2 separate regions of the Homo sapiens genome follow, and region 1 is linked to region 2. The links come from fine-mapping of genetic effects on gene expression. Tissue or cell type: whole blood. Region 2 holds a variant in brackets; the other region holds the start of a gene. All regions are shown on one strand. Distances are between the middles of the regions.

Evidence for each region. PIP is the estimated chance that this variant, and not a neighbour inherited with it, causes the effect.
Region 1: AP3B1 starts here. The variant in region 2 is fine-mapped to the expression of AP3B1 in whole blood (TOPMed, PIP 0.93).

Annotation. Positions count from the first base shown.
Region 1 is chr5:78,293,273-78,295,772 of GRCh38, forward strand. AP3B1 (adaptor related protein complex 3 subunit beta 1) reads right to left here and starts at 1,426. Exons shown (of 27, transcript NM_003664.5): 1 at 1,180-1,426. The coding sequence starts at 1,307. RefSeq lists an enhancer at 1,689-2,262.
Region 2 is chr5:78,114,080-78,116,840 of GRCh38, forward strand. It overlaps AP3B1 (adaptor related protein complex 3 subunit beta 1), which reads right to left. Exons shown (of 27, transcript NM_003664.5): 18 at 2,047-2,155. Among named protein-coding and RNA genes, the nearest start is that of AP3B1, 180 kb to the right of the region's middle. The variant GA/G (reference allele first, on the strand shown) is at 1,394.

The DNA.
Region 1 (2,500 bases), 180 kb after region 2:
GTTAATTCAGTCTAAACATTTTGCTAATAGTAGAGGCAACAAGCTCCGTACTTGTTCTAGAACAATGGATCATCAAATGCATATAATGAAAAATGAAATCAGTTACCTTACTTTTAAACTTTTCTAACCTTGGGAAAAAGGAAAAGATTGTATCTTACATGCTATATATATGATTTTGATCCTCAATACAGCCAAAATGTAATCCCAATTTGAAGTAGTAGCACTTTCTAGACTACCCAATATTGTTAGTAACGTTTAATTTAAATTTTAATTATACCCTCTAACAGATCTGCAAAGCTACTAGCACAGCTATTCTACCTTAATTTAGCATGAATTTAGTGACAGACTATTATGTGACCCTATTGCTTAGTAATGAAAGATTTAAAATAAGAGAAATGTAAAAATGATAATTCTGGTAAATGTAACCACTACCACCAACCCACCCCCCAAAACAAACAACTTGGGATTTCTTTCCATTTCTCGGTGATACTTTTTACAAAACTAAGTGTACCTTGTTTAACATTCGTTTTTAAAATTCACATTATTAATCTGTAAAAGTTTTGGATTTGTTCACAGTAACACTCTTTTAAAATATTTTCTATTCATATGCTTATTTTGGATTGGTGTTTTTGTCTGTAGTGCAAAGGACATAATCCAAGAACATTAATACTGGTGTAAACCAGTTTGTCCATTCAAACAGCCTAAATCCACCTCTCTGCTCCTACACTCCGGGGTCACAAAATAACTTCCCACAAGCAACACTCGCACTCTCACCTTCACCAAAACACTCCTTTCACCCTAATCAGGGAATGTATTAAAGTCTGATCCGGCGAACGGTAAATAAACTAGAAGACGATGCTCAAAATTCAGACTCCTGAGCCCAGCCCAAGTCCAATTCAATCAGTGTCTTCAGGGGTGGGATCTAAGCTCACCAAGTGGTTTCCTTTTCACTAAAGTTTGAAAACTACTAGAGACCCCTACACACATTCGCCCCAAACTCCCACAACTCCCACCACCGCCAACCAACCCCACCTACCCACCCGCGGGACACGTTACCGCCCTGCCCTGCTCAGACCTCAGGGCGACCCCGCTCCTCTCCAGGAAGCCCACCCTGGCGCCCACTCCTCCGAGTCCGCAGCTCCTCCCTCCCATCCCCGCAACCCAAACCTTTCTCCTCACTTCTTCAAATCGCTGCTAAAGAGGCCGAAGGCCCCCGAGGGGGAAATGGTTGAGGTCGCCTCCTGACCCAGCTCCGTCGCCTCCCCTCCTCCGGACTGCTCATTGTAAGGAAAACTATTGCTGGACATTGCCGCGGTGCTGGCGGGTGCGGGGTTGGTCCTGCCGGGGGTTCTCTCCAAAAGGTTCCAGTCCAGAGGGCACGGAACAAAACTAGTTCTCGTACGGAGGAGCGCGCGCAGGCGCTTCCGGACTCGTCACGGCTCCCTGAGCCGACCTGGCAGTCCACCCCCTGCGCATGCGCAGTGTGCAGGCCTGCTAGATTACCACCCGGGCCATCCAGGCCTGCGCGGACTTTCCTGCTCCGGGCTTTAGAGGTAGCTGAGCGGCTGCGAGCCGGACTGCGGAAGGGGAGGCAGCGGGTGGCTAACTGCCCGGCTCCCGGCCCGTTTGAGGTGTGTCTTTGGAGAAGGATACCCATTGCATCCGTTTTGATCCGTTAAGGAGTTTCCAGAGCCCGGACAGCTCTTTGCTATACTTCAGTAAAGCAATAGTTTTCAGATTTCTCCGGAAATGCCATTTAGCACGCCAGATCACCTTTCCTAAACCCATCACGATCGCTTTTCCTTTTCTTGCTTGTTTCGGCTACTCTCTTCCATCCGGCTTTGCCTTACTTTCATATCGGTCCCAAACAACTTTTCTCCTAGACTTTAAGGAGGCCTCTCCCAACGATGGTTTGGAGGATCCGCACAGAAGCGACCATTCCATCTTTTCAATGAAAGTCTTGGGGGCAGACCGGGCGCGGTGGCTCACGCCAGTAATTCCAGCACTTTGGGAGGCCGAGGCGGGTGGATCACTTGAGGCCAGGAGTTCGAGACCAGCCTAGGCAACATAGCGAGACCCTTTCTCTGCAAAAAATATAAAAATTAGCCGGCGTGGTGGCGCGTGTCTGTGGTCCCAGCTACTGAGGCTGAGGTGGGAGGATCACTCGAACCCAGAAGGAGGGGGTAGCGATGAGTTGAGATCTCTCCACTGCATTCCAGCCTGGGCGACAGAGCGAGACCCTGTCTCAAAAAAATGAAAAAGAAAAGAAAACATCTTGGGGCCACCAGTTCCCGTTTGGAGCTGAAGTGGTGCGTCCTATTGGCGTCTAGCTACCAAAAATAAAATGGACCACCTCGCGCGCCAGTCGTGTTACTCACTAATATGCACTAGGGAGCCTAGGCGGGATGCTTGCCTGGCCCCAGAGTAGCTCTCTCCGGGTGCTGGCACCCGAGAAAACCTCTTTCCCGGGGTGCCTTCCCCCAGCCCGCCTTCTCAGGTG
Region 2 (2,761 bases):
TCAGCTCTATGGATTCCTTTAGCACTGTGAGCTTGGAGGGAGGCAGACAGAGGATGCTCTGACAACGAGGAGAGAAAAGCTAAGCAAAGGTGAACCAAGTAAACCAAATTTGAGGGAATCTCACTTCAAACCCCAAAGTATATAGCTATGTCAAAAACTTTCTTTTAAAGAATTACGTAAGGATTGATGTAAGGCTAAAGAAATAATTTTGAATTCTTCTGCTTGTAATGGGAAATTCTATTTAGAGTAAAAGAAGGCAACAGTTGAATCTTCTTAGGAACAAATTTTGAGAGGAAAATGAGCCATTCAAATCACTTGGAAAGACCTCCAAATTCAAAGACAATAGGCAAAATGACTAATTAAAGAGTTATTACTTATTCGAGCTAGTAAACGAGTTTTCCATAGGTCAAAGAGATGATCAAGTTACACTGAGGAATTATACTTTTAAATGTTTTATGTGTAAATTATGGTATGCTAGGACTGTTCGCAGAAGAGAATACATGAAGAATATATGTGTATTTTTTAAGTGAAGCATAATTTTTACTATTTAAAATGACTATAACTACAGAGTTGTGTCCCAGACAAAAGGACAAACTGTTGCCCTGCCTGTGATCTATGTAACGAAGCCCTCTTAGGCAGGAACATAACCTTTAATTAAACATTCTAATGGTTAAATAATACCAACATCAGGAAGGTCCATCACAGTGAAAACCTAGGACTGCCTGTATTGTTTTAAGACGGCTTACAAGGGGTACAAGCATGGGTTCTCAAGTTAGTGTTCGGATTCAGATCCTGGCTCTTCTACTTGCCAGTTGTAAAACTGAACAAGTTATTCAACTTCTCTGGGTTTTGGTTTCCTTTTCAGCAAATGGGGATAACACTAGTTACTTTTCAGAGCTGTTGTGAAGATTAAATGATTTGAAACATACAAAGGAGATTAGAACACAACAGGGTCTGCCACAGGGTAAGGCACTCATCATTATCATCATTTACAAACAGGAAAGTTTATTTTACTAAAATAAAGCTACTAAATAAGGACATTTTAGATTTGTGGTAATATCCAAGTTACACGCACATACATATTAAGTCAGATAACTGGCTTATGCTATAAACAATGAAAGAAATTACAGGTAATGTATCACAGATTAATTTATCAGATACTAAAAACAAAGATTTTTGATAAGGAAGACAGAGAAAAGAAGAGTGAATTACCTTACAGTAGGGTAGCAGATAACCATGTAAGAGTGACAGGCCCTGGTTCTCCAAGGAATAAAGATTTTAGAGAAAGTTGGGTGTCGTTTGGTCTTGGGTCAGATTTGCCTATTAGCTTAAGTGTTAATAAGAGCATCAGAAAGTGACTACAATCTATTTTTCATTATGCAAATCACTCACA[GA/G]ATTTTAGCAATGAAGGGACTTTAAGAAATATTTAACTGTACCCCTTCATTTATCTGATATAGAGAAAAGTAGGTGCCTTATTCAATTTGCATAGGTAAAAGCCAGGGCCTCTAAATCCTTCCTATTAAGCATTCTTTTCACTGCATATAGTTACCCTCAACCTTTAGTTTGATTTTTTTATAGTATATAGAGACTTAATAATTTTAGCTTTATCTCTATAGAGGTTCACAGAAAGAGATAAGTATAAAATGAAAGAGAAAAAGACTCTTCAAGGTATAAAATAAACTTTACGTTTTTGTAAAAGAAAGTTACTTTTAAAGACCCCACTAAAAGTTCATCAAGTGTAAAATTATGTTTTTCAATAGATATATTAGGCATTGTGGTTTAGAATTCAGAAAAGTATGAGTTCCTGTTTCAGCTATACCAATGTATCAGCTACTATCCAAGAGATATTGTAAAGTAAAAAGAGAATTTAGTAATTAAAAATTACTTTGAAAACTAAAGAGTGATATATAAATGAAAGGGATTATTTTGATAATACAAACTTCACTTAAAACTACCTGCTGAATATTATGGATTAGGCCTTGTTTCTGAGATATAGAATGTAATCTACTATGTAAATAATATATGCCAATAAATTATAAAACCCACCACTGTCACTGCTACTATCAGAAGAGTCCTCCTCTTCCTCAGATTCAGAATAAAACTTCTTAGCAGAATTCTCTTGCTTTGCTTTTCCTGCTGGGGTCCATTCTTTTGCCTGTTTAAACAAATAAAGTAAATATAAATGAATTCTCATTCAGAGATTTAGAGTTCTGGCAAACTTAATCATTAACAACATAACTGAATTCAAAAGCAAGCTTAAGGCCTCCACAGGGAATGCAACTGTTAGAAGTCCTGGCATTAAGGCTGATTCACTTTACTCCTAAATACAACAACACAAACTCTCACTCAGAGGCCCTATGTTAAACCAACAATCTTATTTTAAATATACAATTTTTAAAACTTTTGTGTTTTTTGGCCCACAGAAGATTTAAACAAAAGTAATATATCCTAAAATAGGTGAGCGAAACTAGAAGCAGATACAATAACAGCAATAACAAACACAAGTTGATAGCTTGACACTGAGGGAAAAGAGAGAAAAAAAAAAAGAAAGAAAAGAAAATATTTAGTGTAGGCAATAAATTGCCCTAACCATCTCAACAGCCTAAATCCTGGAGTAATCCTTGACTTCTCTTTTTTTCTCATATCCTAAACATCTAAGCCATCAAGAAATCCTGTAGCTACCCTGGTCTGACCCACCCTTCTCTCCTGGACTACTCGTTACCTTGCTTCTACTGCCCCTCCACCCTGCCCCCAGCAAACA